Linked DNA regions of Homo sapiens: region 2 is linked to region 1. Evidence: fine-mapped expression QTL. Tissue or cell type: whole blood. Region 1 holds a variant in brackets; the other region holds the start of a gene. All regions are shown on one strand. Distances are from middle to middle.

Region 1 (8,101 bases):
CTTAGCTGGAACCAGCCAAGAATCGTTTAATCCATTGGATGGGTGTGATTCCCCAAAAGGCCACCTGAGGGCACCCTGTGAAAGGCTTCAAGTGTGCTTGGGCGATCTGTCGGAGGCAGTCTTGAGAAAGAAAGCAGATGGGCAGGAGTAAGAAAATGCTTGCCTGTTTCTCCCCTCCCTCTGTCAGTTAAGCCTGGGGGGCACCCGTCCCTGGCCCCTGCCTTGTTTCAAGTACCATCCTCCAGCTGGCCTACCTGCCTTTCCTTCCCCAGCCCTCAGCTGTGGGAAAATTACCATCTTTCTCATGGGGCTGGGCTCTGGGTCCAGAGCCTGTCGGAATGCACAAAGCCAAGCCCATGTCTTAAGTAAATGCCAAAAAGTCCTAGCAGAGTGTGTTCTGCACCCACCAGGGAGCCTGTCTGCCCACCTACTGCAAGGAAGAGAAGGAGGGCTCCTTTCCAGCAGAAGCCTGGGGAGAGGGAGGATGCTCCTGCCCGAGGACATGGGCTGTGGCCCGTTGACAAGGCCTAGAACACCTGGAACTGACTGGGAGACTATTCACTCTCAGCAAGCATTCCCTGAGCATCTGTGACCCCCGAGGCACTGGGACACACACAAGACACAAAAGAGGCCCACCCATGAAGGAGCTTACAGCCTAATCACAAACCAGGGAGGTGTCACATGGGCTAAACAAAAATGACAAATCCTGAGATTCTAAGGTCAAAAGACAATCCAGGTATCATACTAAAAAGATACCAAAGAGGATGGAGTCAGTAGAACCATCTGCAACCAGTGCAGCCACCCAGGGCTGGGACAGTTGTTCGGGAAGCCAGAAGCCAAGAAGTTAGCCTTCTCTTTGCTTTGGTGTCTTAGTTCCCTTGTGCTGCTATATACCATACCACAGACTGAGTGATTTATAAGCAACAGAAATGTATTTCCCACATTTCTGGAGGCTTAGAAGTCCAAGCTCAAGGCACCATCAAGCTTGGTGTCTGGTGAGGGCCCAGTCTCCACTTCCAAGACATTGCCTTGTTGCTGCTCCATCGTGAAGGCTGTGTCTTCACACCGTGGATGGGATGAACTGGCCCCTCACGCCTTTCCATAACATCACTAATCCCATCGTGAGGGCTCTGCCCTCATGACTTAGTCATTCCCTGAAGGCCCCACCTGTTAATACTGTCACAGTGGTGATTAAACTTCAACATGTGAATCTGGCAGGACGTTCAGATCATGGCACTTGGCCTCGTCCTGCTAACCTGTGGCAGGGGGGCAGATGAGGATAGAACCTATCTGGGGCATCCCAGATGGGTGGGGTCTAGGCCTCGCTTCTGGCAGTCAGTAATGCAGGGTCTTGATAAGCCTATAAGCCGCAGCAGCCAGTGGTCAGGGCTGAGGACAATGGAGGGTGACCCATGTGGACTTGATGGCCAGAGGTCATCCCCTCAGATGTAATGGGAAAGGAGCTCCCGAGTGGAATCCGTAGTGGGAAGACAACACTTAGGACCGCATGGCTGGGGCCACGGCAGAGGCACAGAGCAGAGTGCTCTCTGCAGCAGAAGGCCCACAAGAGATGGCGTCCAAGGAGTAGCATCGCTCCCCAGCCATGCTTCCCTGGGATTTGGGCAAGCCTCCCTGCACACCAAACATGAGCCTCAGGGCGGGCTGGAGGAGGGGGTTTCCGGTTCTTCTGCCTCTCCTGGGTCTGACCTCGTCGTTGTCATTGCCCAGGTGGCATCCAAGGCTCTGCTGTCTGTCCACAGCATCCGGACCTCTCATCTGTCTACACCCATTGCTTCAGGCTTGGTCCCTCCGCCGTCAGTAATGTCCAGCTTCACTCAGGCCGCTCACCTGCGCTTTACATTCCAACATCTGCTGTGAGTGTGTCCTCTCTGGGCAGCCCCCCACCCTCCCTCACTCCCCAGGGGCTCCTCCTCTGACCCTGTGCGCTTCCTCCATGCTTCCCCCACAGTTAGGGGCACCACCATCCATCCAGTCACCTGGGAATGATCCCAGGGTCAGGTGATCTGAGGATGGAGAATTGACCACTGAGCTTGGTGGCGAGGCTGGTGCCCTTGACCTGACTTGATTAACTGGCTGTGGCTCCAGCTTGGAGAATCCCTAAAGCCAGTGAGCCTGGTGGAAGGACTGCTAGGAGGCAGAGCAAGCATTCCAGGTGGGAGTGGAGCACTCCTGGTGCCAGGCCATGCTGAGGGAGGGGTGGGTGTTATTCTAGGAGCCAAGAGGATTTTAAGCCTGGTGTCCTAGCTGACCTCCCGCCCCACACCTACCCAGGATCCTCAGGCAGGGCTCTCCATGCCTCATTCTCACCCCAGCTCGGCCTGTGTGTCTGCCCACCTGGGCCTCCCATCCACTCTGTCAAGTTGGTGACTGTGTCCCTGCCTTGTGGAGTCCTCTCAAGGTCTTGTGGGGACCTTGTCCAAGAGGTTTTTAATAAATATTTGTGGGGAGACCAAACCAAGAAGAAATGAGTGGATTAATCACAGGGCTCTAGGCCGGGCACAGTGGCTCATGCCTGTAATCCCAGCACTTTGGGAGGCCGAGGCGGGCAGATCACGAGGTCAGGAGATTGAGACCGTCCTGGCCAACATGGTGAAACCTTGTCTCTACTAAAAATACAAAAATTAGCTAGGCGTGGTGGCATGCGCCTGTAGTCCCAGCTACTTGGGAGGCTGAGGCAGGAGACCTGCTTGAACCTGGGAGGTGGAAGTTGCGGTGAGCCAAGATCATGCCACTGCACTCCAGCCTGGCGACAGAGCAAGGCTCTGTCTCAAAAAAAAAAAAAAAAAAAATCAGAGGGCTCTAGACTAGAAGAGTCCTTAGGGAGATGTTCTACATGTTTTGCTTGAGGCCCTGAAAGGAGAAGCAGCTGGCTTAGGGGGACACATAGTTTAGTGGTCAGAGGGGCACAGGAGAGCAGAACTCATAGACCAACACGGTCCACAAGCGTCCTTCTGAAACGCAGTTCTAACCATGTCACTTTCAGGTCCCAACAGTCAGCTGGCCTCCTTTGCCCAGCAGCAGTGTTTACATGAGGTCTGTGGACCCTGTTATGGACTGAATTATGCCCTGCTCCACCCAAATCCATACATTGAAGCCCTAGCCCCCAATGTGACCATATTTGGAAATAGGTCCTTTAAAGAGGTAATTAAGGCACGCTTTTCATCTGTCCCGCTGAGTGTTTGCCTCTTGATCAGGAACTCCTGCTTCTCCCTGCCTCTAAATGGACCCCAACTGCTCCTGCTCGCCTGATGGTTCCTGCGCCTGTGCCGGCTCCTGCAAATGAAAAGAGTGCACATGCACCTCCTGCAAGAAGAGCTGCTGCTCCTGCTGCCCTGTGGGCTGTGCCAAGTGTGCCCAGGGCTGCATCTGCAAAGGGACGTCGGACAACTGCAGCTGCTGTGCCTGATGCCAGGACAGCCCTGCTCTCAGATGTAAATAGAGCAACCTTATAAACCTGGATTTTTTTGGTACAACCCTGACCCATTTGCTACATCTTTTTTTCTATGAAATATGTGAATGGCAATAAATTCATCTAGACTAAAAAAAAAAAAAAAAAAAAAGGTAATGAAGGGTGAGCATGGTGACTGATGACTGTAATCCCAGCACTTTCAGAGGCCAAGGCAGGCAGATCACTTGAGGCCAGGAGTTTGAGACAAGCCTGGGCAACAAGGCAAAACCGTACCTCTAAAAAAATACAAAAGAAAAAGTCCGGGCATGGTGGCTAATGCCTGTAATCCCAGCACTTTGGGAGGCCAAGGCGGGCGGATCACCCGAGGTCAGGAGTTCAAGACCAGCCTGGCCAACATGGTAGAACCCCGTCTCTACTAAAAATACAAAAATTAGCTGGGTGTGGTGGCAGGCGCCTGTAATCCCAGCTACTTGGGAGGCTGAGGCAGGAGAATCACTTGAACCTGGGAGATGGAGGTTGCAGTGAGCAAAGATCGCGCCATTGCACTCCAGCCTGGGGCACAAGAGCGAGACTTTGTCTCAAACAAACAAACAAAAATACAAAAAAAAAAAAAATTAGCCAGGCGTGCTGATATGCACCTGTAGTCCTAGCTCCCCTCGGGGCTGAGGCAGGAGGATTGCTTGAGCCTGAGGAGGTCGTGGCTGCAGTGAGCTGAGATCACACCACTGCCCTCTAGCCTGGGTGACAGAGTGAGGCCCTGTCTCAAAAAATAAAAGAAAAAGGTAATCAAGGTTAAATGAGACCATAAGCATGGAGCCCTAATCCAGTAGGACTAATGTCCTATTTGTAACAGAGGAAGAGACACCAGACATGTATAAGCACAGAGAAGAGGCCATCTGTAAGCCAGGAAGAGAGGCCCCACCCAGAAACCAACTCTGCTGGCACCTTGATCTTGGACTTCCAGCCTCTAGAACTATGAGAAAATAAATTTCTGTTGTTTAGAGTACCCAGACTGTGGTATTTTTGTTACAGCAGCCTGGGCTGACTCATATAGACCCCAACTTCAGAACTGCCTAGTGCTTTTGTCAAATCTGCAGGCTCACAGACCTACCCAGCCCCTGACACAGAATGTCGGGGTTGGATGTGTGAACCCCAAATATCTGAGACAGGTC[A/G]CAGTCAATTTAGAAAGTTTATTTTGCCAAGGTTAAGGATGTGCCCGTGACAGCCTCAGGAAATCCTGAGACATATACCCAAGGTGGTCAGGGGTACAGTTTGCATTTAAGTTTTAGGGAGACATGAGACCTCAATCAATATGTGTAAGATGTACATTGGTTTGGTCTGGTAAGACAGGACAGCTTGAAGCAGGGGCTTCCAGGTTAGAAATACATAAGAGACAAGGCCAGGTGCAGTGGCTCATGCCTATAATCCCAGCACTTTGGAAGGCTGAGGTGGGCGGATCATGAGGTCAGGAGATCCAGACCATCCTGGCCAACATGGTGAAACCCCGTCTCTACTAAAATACAACAACAACAAAAATTAGCCGGACATGGTGGGGCATGCCTATAGTCCCAGCTACCTGGGAGGCTGAGGCAGGGGAATCACTTGAACCTCAGAGGCAGAGGTTGCAGTGAGCCGAGATTGTGCCACTGCACTCCAGCCTGGGCGACAGAGTGAGACTCTGTCTCAAAAAAAAAAAAAGTAGATAGGAGACAAAAGATTGCATTCTTTTGAGTCCTTGATCAGCCTTCCACTGAATACATAATTTTATTTATTCAGCTCTGTCACCCAGGCTGGAGTGCAGTGATATGATTCTGCTCACTGCAACCTCCACCTCCCAGGTTCAAGCGATTCTTCTGCCTCAACCTCCAGAGTAGCTGGGATTACAGGCGCCTGCCATCACAGCCAGATAATTTTTGTATTTTTAGTAGAGACAGGGTTCACCATGTTGGCCAGGCTGGTCTTGAACTCCTGACCTCGGGTGATTTGCCCGCCTCAGCCTCCCAAAGTGCTGGGATTACAGGCGTGAGCCACCGCGCCCAGCCATTTTTTTGTATATTTTTAGGGATAAGGTTTTGCCATGTTACCCAGGCTGGTCTCAAACTCCTGACCTCAAGTGGTCCACCAGCTTCAGCCTCCCAAAGTGCTGGGATTACAGGCGTGAGCCACCGCACATGGCCCCAAGAGGACTTTACATCTTCTCTGGGTTGCAGATTAACAGGCACGTTCATTCTGCCAAGTTGCTTCATTTTCTCACACGCTCACTGAGCCCTCCACGAGCCAAAGATGGGTGGATGTGAAGTCTGGAAATCCAGAAATAATTCAGATCAGAGCCCTGCCACTGAGTGACTCCTGGCCCATGGAGAGAGCTCTGGACAGCTGTGAATCTCCCTGACTGGGCAGATGTGACAGCTGCAGGAATGGGAACCATGTGACCTGGGAGTATGGGCAAAGGATTCCACCTGCAGAATCCTGTAGGAATGGTTATTCATCTGGTTTTTCTGCCTAGCCACAGCGTGAGCAAGTTGAGAGAAAGCACCTTGTCTTACACATCCTCATCCCCTCTCTTAGACATAATGGGCCTTAAAAATCTGTGAGTTCGTAGTCCTCTGGCTGCTTTCTGCTTCCCTAGGAACAGCCCTCCTAGTGGCTAGGGGCAAAGTTTTAAAAACACAAAACCCAAACTGGCAGAACAGATAAGTACTTTAGAGTCAGGTAAGTGTGGGTTCTTTTTTTTTTTTTTTTTTTTTTTTTGACAGGGCCTAGCTCTGTCACTCAGGCTGAAGTGCAGTGGCATGATCTCGGCTCACTGCAACCTCCATTTCCCGGGCTCAAGCAATCCTCTCATCTCAGCCTCCAAGTAGCTGGGACTACAGGCGTGCACTACTGTGCCCGGCTAATTTTTGTATTTTTTTTTTTGTAGAGGCAGGGTCTTACTATGTTGCCCAGGTTGGTCTCAAACTCCTGAGCTTAAGCAATCTGCCCGCCTCAGCTTCCCAAAGTGCTGGGATTACAGGCGTGAGCCACCACACCCAGCCAGCTGTGGGTTCTGAGTCGGTTTCACACTGACTAGCTGTGCGGTGTGACCTCAGACAAGTCACGTTATGTTTCTGAGAGTCTTCGTCAGTACAAGAGGGTAATACTATTTACACAGGTTTGTTTATAGAATTAAATCAGGTGACCCCTGTAAAGTCCCCACTGTCTGGCACTTGGGTGGCCTTAGGTAAAGCTTAACTCCTAAATTATTCCTTTCAAAACAGTGATTTGCCCTACTTGAAGGCATTGCGGAAAGATAATGGTAAAAATTAAATGTAATAGACAAACTCTCAGTAATGACCCACCTGCACTCTTTCCAACCAGTGGGCATTTACTGAGCACCCACCTTCTGGGTAACAGGCCTGGTGTCCAGTGCTGGAACGGTGGAGAGGAGCTCAGAGTTTCAGAGCTGAAAAGTCAGCTCCAGGAGAGCAGGGACTTCTTGTTGGCCACTGTATTCCCAGCTAGGTGCTCAGTATTTGTTGAATGAATGAATGAATGAAAAATACAATCCAGCGGGCCTCTGACTCATTTTTTAAAACTTGAGCCAAGTCCCTTGACCTCTCTGAGCTGGTGTGTGTCCCCATCAGTGAAGCCAGAGATGTTTAAGTCATCTAGAGGTCCTGCCAAGCAGGATTAATAGAGCAATAATATTAATAATAGCAACAATCATAACTAAACATATGGAGCACTGCTATGGAGGGAATAACATGTTACGTCCACGTTATAGAAGAGGAAACTGAGACACAGAGAAGCATGAAAGGCTCCTGGAGGGGGGGTTTCATGATGTTTTGGAAGAAAGACTAGGGATCGGACGGAGTCATAGAGAAGAGGATCCACAACCCAGAGGAAAAGGCCTAGTCCAGAGCCACCGCGCGGCGCAGGCTGCGGACGTTGTAGGAGGGACGAACGCCTCCCGGAACCCGCCCAACCCAACCTCCGGCGTCTCCATGGCAACAACCTCCGCACATGCGCCGCGCGCACCTGCGCCGGAGCTGCCAGCACGCGCAGAAGGCGGACGCAGGCGGGGCGGAAGTGGGCCCGGCGGGCTGGGGCGGCGGGAGTGCGGGTGGGCGTTTAAAGGGGCCTTCGGCACCCAGGTCGGTTCGCCGCCGGGACTGCTGACGGGGAGGGCTAGGTAGCCCTGGGAGTCGGGATCTAGAAGGTAGAGGAGAAGCGGGGCTGTCTGACCCCCGGAGGTGACAAGGGGAGAGGGGCTGTGTGAATACCCTCCATGGGCAGTAATGGGATGACTATCCCCAGGGAGCATTGCGAAGGAGAGAGGCGGCTGAGGGACTGCACTTTCTGGGGCCCCCCGGGAGAGTCAGAGGGCAGTTAAGAGGGATCACAGGCCCGGCTTGGTACTGTCACTCCCCTTCCCACTCCCTGCTCTCAGCATTCTGTCACCTCCCTACCCCGTCGCGGTGCCCAGCCATGGCCAGACCTCCCGTGCCCGGTTCGGTGGTTGTCCCAAACTGGCACGAGAGTGCCGAGGGCAAGGAGTACCTGGCTTGCATTCTGCGCAAGAACCGCCGGCGGGTGTTTGGTAAGTGCCTCCCCCTTTCCTCTAGCCCGCCACTTGTCTTTCCCTGGGGAGAAGAGTGTCACCTGTTGCTCCCTGAGGAGAGCAGAGAGGCA
Region 2 (8,101 bases), 220 kb before region 1:
ATTTCTCTGCATTTCTCATTTTCGAAACAGGGATGAGTACTGCTATAAACATTTGTGTCCACCCCCACCTCCAAATTCATACTGAAACCTAACCCCTAGTATGATGGTATTTGGAGGTGAGTTCTTTGGAAGGTAATTATGTCATAAGCGTAGAGCCCTCACAAACAGTATTGCCCTTATAAGGAAGCCCCAGCCAGGTGTGGTGGCTCACGCCTATAATCCCAGCACTTTGGGAGGCTGAGGCAGGTGGATCATGAGGTCAGGAGTTTGAGACCAGCCTGGCCAATAAGGCAAAACACCATCTTGACTAAAAATACAAAAATTAGCTGGGCGTGGTGGCATGTGCCTGTAGTCCCAGCTACTTGGGAGGCTAAGGCAGGAGAATTGCTTGAACCCAACAGGCAGAGGTTATAGTGAGCCAAGATCACACTCCAGCCTGGGCAATAAGAGCAAAACTATCTTTAAAAAAAAAAAAGGCAGTGCCATTCCCATGTGGTGGCTCATGCCTTTAAGCCCAGCACTTTGGGCGGCCAAAGCAGGAGGATCACTTGAGGCCAGGAGTTTGAGATCAGCCTGGTCAATATAGCAAGACTCCATCTCTTAAAAAAAAAAAAAAAAAAAAAAAAAAGTCCCCAGAGTACTCTATTGCCCCTTCTACCATGTGAGGTTACAGCAAAAAGACGGCCTCACCAGACACCGAATCTGCTGGTGCCTTGGACTTCCCAGCCTCCAGAACTGTGAGCAAAAAATTTCTTTTGTTTATAAACTACCCAGGCTATGTTATTCTGTCATAGTCCCAAATAGACTAAAACAAGTACTTACTGGCCAGGTGCGGTGGCTCACACTTGTAATCCCAGCATTTTAGGAGGCCAAGGCAGGCTGATCACTTGAGGTCAGGAATTTGAGACCAGCCTGGCCAACATGATGAAACCCCGTCTCTACTAAAAATCAAAAAAATTAGCCGGAAGTACTGGCACACGTCTGTAATCACAACTACTCGGAGGCTGAGGCAGAAGAACTGCTTGAACGCAGGAGGCAGAGGTTGCAGTGAGCTGAGATCATGCCACTGCATTCCAGCCTGGGCCACAGAGCGAGACTGTCTCAAAACACAAAAAAAACAAGTCCTTACCTCATGGGGTTGTAGAGATGATGCAATGAGTTTTATAAGTGCATAGAATAGTGCCTAGCAGAGAGTTAAGCATTACTTTAGCAATAAACAATAAGCATTACTTAAAGGCAACAGGAAGGCCCAAAGGAGCATCATAAGGGACCTCCCAAGGCCCTACAGCTATTAAGTCTATCCAGATTCTCTCTTTTCCACACTGATTCCCACCTCAAACACACTTTGCTAACCTTTGTGTTGGTTATCTATTGCTGCATAACCTTACCAGAAACTTAGCGACTTAACACAATACATTTACCATCTGTTCCTATGGGACAGTCTGGGCACAGCTTAGCTGGTCCTCTGCAAGGCTGCAGTCAGTGTTGGTCAGGCCTGGGGTCTCACCTGAAGGCTTACCTGGGAGTGATCAGCCTCCAAGCTTGTGTGGTTGCTGGCAGCATTTGCTTTCTTGCAGACTGCTGGACTGAGCTTCAGTTTCTTGTTGGCTGTCAGAGGCTACCTCAGTTCCTAGCCACCTGACCCTCTCCCAAGGGCAGCTCACACAACATGACAGCTTCCTTCTTCAAAGCCAGCAAGAGAATTTCTCAGCAAGGCAGATGTTGCAGTCTTACATAAGGCAACCATGAAAATAACATCTTGTCACCTTTGTGGCACTCTACTGGTTAGCAGTCACAGGTCTAGGCCATCTCAAGGGGCAGGGAGTACATAAGGCTGTGAACAGCAGGTGGGGATCACAGTGACCACCTGGGAGTCTATCTGCCACACCTCCCAGTGCATCCAAATTCTGTTGTGCAGAGGGCAAGTGAGGTCTAGCATACCCCCCAAGAAAGCAGCCATCTTCTACCATCCACCCACCAGTTTGTAAACTCCAGTCAGGGGTGTAATTGAAGTGATGCCTGGTTTGGGATTGAGTTTTCCTGGAGATTCTGGTCCTGTAATGAGTTTTTTCCAGCTGGGATTCCAGTTAGTGATGGACAGCATCAAGCTGTCCCTTGCTCCTGGCCCCAGACCCCACAAGGTGCTTTTCAGGCTAGATTCCTGAGGGCTGTGTCATCAGCTGTGCCACCTCCTCCTCCCTACCATGATGAACTGTTCTGGGTACTTACCTGACTCCAGAGAAAGGTCATTAAGGTCAAACAATGCAATGTGCATCTGCTAGTGCCTCATCCGAGTGACGCTCAGGTGAAGGAACAGCCTGTGGCCACACGTCTAACCAGGGGATAGCCTAGATCCTAAGGCCAGGTCTGTCTCCACAATCCAAGTGCTGATCTTCAATGGTACATACTTTTTTTTTTTTTCCTTTTGAGACAGTCTTGCTCTGTTGCCCAGGCTAGAGTACAGTGGCATGATCTCAGCTCACTGCAACCTCCACTTCCTGGAGGCAATTCTCATGCCTCAGCTTCTCAAGTAGCTGGGATTACAGGCGTGCGCCACCATGCCTGGCTAATTGTTGTATTTTTAGTAGACGGGGTTTCACCATGTTCGCCAGGCTGGTCTCGAACTCCTAACCTCAAGTAAGCCACCCACTTCGGCCTCCCAAAGTGCTGGGATTGTGGGCATGAGCCACCACACCCAGCCATGGTACACACTTCTAATAAAGCTTCCTCTACATCTAAGCTTTCTGATTTCCACCCTCCAAGTACTTAAAACTGACTCGATGTGAAGTAATGCTATGTGAAATCGACATAAAAAAGTTACTGCTCCCGAAGATCCTTTAATGCAATCTCCTTACCCTTAATTCAATGGGCAAGAGAATCTTCAATTTTCATTTTCTTTCTCCTCTCTACAGTTTCTTAATCAGAGTGGCTATTTCCATAACAATAAAAACTGCTTCTTACAGAATCCTCAGGCAAAAGAAGTGTTGTGGCTTTTTTTCATTTTTAATTCTTTTAGAGAATTCTCTAGGGTCTCACTGCTGCCTAGACTGGAGTGCGAGGCCGTGATCATAGCTCACTGCAGCCTCAAACTCCTGGGCTCAAGCAATTCTCCCACCTCAGCCTCGCAAGTAGTTAGGATTCCAAGCATGCACCACCACCACACTAATTTTTTTTTTTTTTTTTTTTTTTAAGAAATGGGGTCTAACAGCCGGGTGCCGTGGCTCACGCCTATAATCCCAGCACTTTGGGAGGCCAAGGCGGGCAGATAACTTGAGGTCAGGAGTTTGAGACCAGCCTGGCCAGCATGGTGAAACCCCATCTCTACTGAAAAAATACAAAAATTAGCTCGGTGTGGTAGGTGCCTGTAATCTCAGCTACTGGAAAGGTTGAGGTAGGAGAATCACTTTAACCTGGGAGGCGGAGGTTGTAGTGACCAAGATTGCTCCACTGCACTCCAGCCAGGGCAACAGACTGAGACTGTGTCTCAAAAAAAAGGAAAGAAATGCATCTTACTATGTTGCCCAGGCTGGTCCCAAACTCCCAGCCTCAAATGATCCTCCCGTCTTGGCCTCTCAAAGTGCTGGGATTACAGGCGTGAGCCACTGCACCCGGCCTCTTAATTTTACTTTTGACCTCTGGGTATCTGCACCCCTTTACTACTTAGGGAGATGCTCTGCCGGTAGGTTTGGTGGAAGACGGAAAGCAAGGGGCCAGGCTCTCTAGAACGGCCTGTATCATGAGACGCCACAAGAGAATTAAGCCCCACACAAAGTGATTCAAGCAACTACTTTCACATCAACCAAAGGATGATGAAAAGACTGTACTATCCTAGAGAACACAGGAGAGAAGGTACCGATTGCCTTAGACAACAAGGTTGCATTTCCTCACTTTGGCCAGCCTCACACCCCAGCCCTGAACTTTCAATCTGGACACTTGGTCAGTGGTGAGAGAAGTGGCCGTGAGTCTAGCTGTGGCACCCTGAAGAGTTTAACAGCCACGCGGCCAGAAACACATTCATCTTTCACATACAATGACAGAAGTAAAAATATTTATTTTATCTTAAAAATCTGGTCCCGCAAAAAGGCCAACACTTTTTTCAGTTCACGGTCTTGACCTTTCAAAGAAGAAATCTTTCAACTGAGAGGTGAGTTAATAAAAGGAATGTCAGAGGTGCTTTCAGATTTCTTATAAACCAGTAAACCAAGCAACCCTGGACTTCTAGTTTACTGAGCTCCTTCTTCTAGCCATTCACAGTTCCTGAAGGAGAAAAGAAGTTGTTTGCAGATAAGGCACTTTAGAAACCACCAAAGAGAAAACCCAAGTCTGCCAGGAGCTGCACTGTGAACATGTGAGCCGAGAGGGCCACCAGCAGACAGAGTGCCAACTCCCACAGCTCCATGACAACAGCATCCACCTTCCTGCCCCAACACTGTTCCGTCTGGCTTCCAGCACCCGCCTTGGCTCTGTGTTGCCTACCTGGCCTAGAATACATGGAAACCAGACAACTGGCCAGAGATAAACACTGCTGCCTGAAGCTCAGGGCAGCTGCCCACAGTGAGGAATCCCTTCAGAGGCCCCAGCTGGGGCACGCCGAGGGAGCAGTTCCTTTTGCAAAGATGAGTTAGTGCGGATCAGCACATTAGCAAAGCAAAATATTTAAACATTTTTAAAAGCTGCTAATCCTTCCAATTTCCCTCCTGATTGTAGCTCAAGCTGCAGCCTCTAAACCTGCTAAAAATCAGGAAGAAACCCCTCCTCTGGAGGGCAGATGGACTGAAGTGGCTACAGCCAGTGTGGGTACGGAAAGCCTCCCGCTGAACTGTGATCATGTGACACCTGCAGACCCTGGGAAGGGCTGATCTGAATCCTGGCAGCAAACTCAACCTCTTCTTTTGCTTGGGGGGCTTGTGTTTAATACAGGTCATTGCGATGGAAGAAGTCTCAGAGTCTCTCTCACATCAAGAGGACAGATGGGGACAGGGATCCTGGAGCTTTTCTTCTCCTGTGTTCTGGTTGCATACTTGAATCCCAGGAAACAGTGTGACACGGTGCCAATTTACTGCCAAACATGCCCGGTTTGTCAACAGAGCCAGACAAGGAGGAGAGGAGAGATTCATGCCCCAAACACAGGCCAGCTGAGGAGGGCTTCGTCCTCCTTCCTTTGGCCCAGATGAGGGAGCGCCTTCCCAGAAGTCACATGAGGAAAAACCGTGCTCAGGTCAGAACTGGACCCAGCCTGTGCCTGGCTGGGTCTGGCTGGAAGTTGATCTGTAAAGAGAAGACAGGGAAGGGTGGGGGAGTTCAGATCTTTGAAAATACAAAGCAGATAAAAGTTGGTTTCTCTCTGGACAGAAAAAGCTCTAAGAAGCCAGTTCCTAAATGTTCTAGAGCAGCAGTCAGCAAACTCTGGCACAGAGACCAAATCTGGCCCTCGATGGTTTTTTTTTTTTAAATAGTTAATGTAACTGTATTTACCAAAGTTTTTTGTTTGTGGTTTTGTTTTTTGTTTTGTTTTTTTTTTGAGACAGGGTCTCACTGTCGCCCAGGCTGGAATGCAGTGGCACACTCAAGGCCAACTATAGCCTCAACCTCTTGAGCTCAAGCGATCCTCCTACCTCAGCCTCCCTAGTAGCTGGAACTACATGACCGGTTAATTTTTGTATTTCTTTTAGTAGACACAGGGTTTTGCCATGTTGCCCAGGCTGGTCTCGAACTCCTGGCCTCAAGTGATCTGCCTGCTTTGGCCTCCCAAAGTGCTGGGATTACAGGCGTGAGCCAACATGCCTGGCCGAAGAGTCTTAACCCCTTTCCCATGTAGAAAAAATATAGCTCACTGCCAGCCCTCATTTAATTTTACATAAACATGCTCTTTGAGGCTGAAGCAAATCTGACTGATTTTCAACGTGAAAATAAAATATAAAAACTGTTCTTGGAGTTATTTCAGAATCATCTGAATAATCAGAACTATTTTGGAAAAATCAGACTCCTCAAATGAATCTTAGGCTAAAAACTGTTCAAGAACGATGTTAACATCACATGTAAGAATGCTGCGTTTTCTAGGATTTGACTTTTTCAGTAATCAATAATTACTATATTTTGGGCCAGGCATGGTAGTTCACGCCTGTAATCCCAGCACTCTGGGAGGCTGAGGTAGGCGGACTGCTGGATTCCAGGAGTTCCAGACCAGCCTGGGCAACATAGCAAAACCCCGCCTCTACTAAAAATACAAAAAATTAGCCGGGTGTGGTGGCAATTGCCTGTAGTCCCAGCTACTCAGGAGGCTAAGGGATAATCACCTGAGCCTGGAAGGTCAAGGATGCAGTGAGCCGACATCACGCCACTGCACTCCAGCCTAGGCAACCAGAGTGAAACCTTGTCTCAAAAAAAAAAAAAAAAAAAAAACAGAATTACTATATTTTGTAAATGGAAATACCACTATTAAAAACAGAATGCTATAAATAGAATGTCTTTTGTTCCAAAGCTGATATACTAGAGCGATGCAAAAATAATATAAAAGCAATACATTTTGTGGCAAAGTTATCTCAGGGTCAACGCTGCAGTCTGAAGTGCCACTGGCAAGTTTTCTCAGGGCAAACAGGAAAAGGGTTACAGTCCTCATTTCACGCCTCTGTTTTTTTTGTTTGTTTATTTGTTTTTTGAGATGGAGTCTTGCTCTTGTGACCCAGGCTGGACTAGAGTGGCATGATGTCAGCTGACTGCAATCTCCCGGGTTCAAGCAATTCTCGTGCCTCAGCCTCCCAAGTAGCTGGGATTACAGGCACCACCCCACCACGCCCAACTAATTTTTGTGTATTTAGTAGAGATGGGGTTTGACCATGTTGGCCAGGCTGGTCTTGAACTCCTGACCTCAGGTGATCCGCCTGCCTGGGAATCCCAAAGTGCTGGGATTACAGGCATGAGCCACCGCGCCCAGCCCATGCCTCTATTTTTGTAAATAAAATTTTACTGGCACACAGCCATGCTGATTTATTTACATATTGTCTGTGGCTGCTTTTGTGCAACAAGAGCAGAACTGAGTAGCTAGAACGAAGACCACACGGCCTGAATAGTCTAAACTATTTGCTATCTAGTCCTTTACAGAAAATGTGGCTGGGCACACTGGCTCGTGCCTATAATCCCAGCACTCTGGGAGGCCGAGGCAGGCAGATCGCTTGAGCCCAGGAGTTCAAGGCCAGCCTGCGCAACATGGCAAAACCCCGTATCTATGAAAAAATACAAAAAATAGCTGGCATGGTGATGTGCACCTGTAGAGCCAGCAACATGGGAGAATGTGGTTGCAGTAAGCCGTGATAGTGCCACTGCACTCCAGCCTGGGTGACAGAGAGAGACCCTGTCTCAAAACATGAAAAGAAAAAGAAAATGTGTGCTGACCCCTGTCCTAGAATCTGTCCATGTAAATAATAGTGCAGTAGGAATTTAGTATCTTTTCACCCTGGCCCCAAGTAAAGTCTTGAGATCTTATGGAATCAGAGAAGACAAGCCACCTAGCCTCAGGCGTTCTATGAGGATGGGCTGAGGCTGGAGCCTGGGTCTGAACTCTCAGTCCACTATTTTGGGGAAGGTGGGGGATGGGGTATAGAAGAAGGAGGTACTGGGGACAAGCCAAAGCACTTGGGAAGGCGGTTTAAAGGCCCAGATTTGCAAAGGGTTGCCCCAGGCTATATAGCACTGGAAAGCAGCAAAACCTCCACGGAAAGACGTGTGCCACCCAAAGCAGGCACGCTGGGGCTCTGTCCTCTGGCTAGCTTGAAAACATCCAAATCAGGCCAGGCGCGGTGGCTCATGCCTGTAATCCCAGTACTTTGGGAGGACGAGGCAGGTGGATCGCCTGAGGTCAGGAGTTCAAGACAACCCTGACGAACATGGTAAAACCCCATCTCTACTAAAAATATAAAAAATTAGCCAGGCGTGGTGGCAGGTGCCTGTAATCCCAGCTACTCAGGAGGCTGAGGCAGGAGAATAGCTTGAACCTGGGAGGCAGAGGTTGCAGCGAGCCAAGATCATGCCATTGCACTCCAGCCTGGGCAACAAGAGCAAAACTCCCTCTCAAAAAAAAAAAAAAAAGAAAAGAAAACATCCA

What was found. PIP is the estimated chance that this variant, and not a neighbour inherited with it, causes the effect.
Region 2: LINC01772 starts here. The variant in region 1 is fine-mapped to the expression of LINC01772 in whole blood (INTERVAL, PIP above 0.99).

The regions. Positions count from the first base shown.
Region 1 is chr1:16,236,539-16,244,639 of GRCh38, reverse strand. It overlaps CPLANE2 (ciliogenesis and planar polarity effector complex subunit 2), which reads left to right and starts at 7,457. Exons shown (of 5, transcript NM_030907.4): 1 at 7,457-8,009. The coding sequence starts at 7,898. It also overlaps the pseudogene MT1XP1. RefSeq lists a silencer at 7,400-7,579 and an enhancer at 7,420-7,964. The variant A/G (reference allele first, on the strand shown) is at 4,603.
Region 2 is chr1:16,456,009-16,464,109 of GRCh38, reverse strand. It overlaps LINC01772 (long intergenic non-protein coding RNA 1772), which reads right to left and starts at 3,162. Exons shown (of 2, transcript NR_147210.1): 1 at 823-3,162. It overlaps NECAP2 (NECAP endocytosis associated 2), which reads right to left. Exons shown (of 8, transcript NM_018090.5): 8 at 4,032-5,268. The coding sequence ends at 5,220.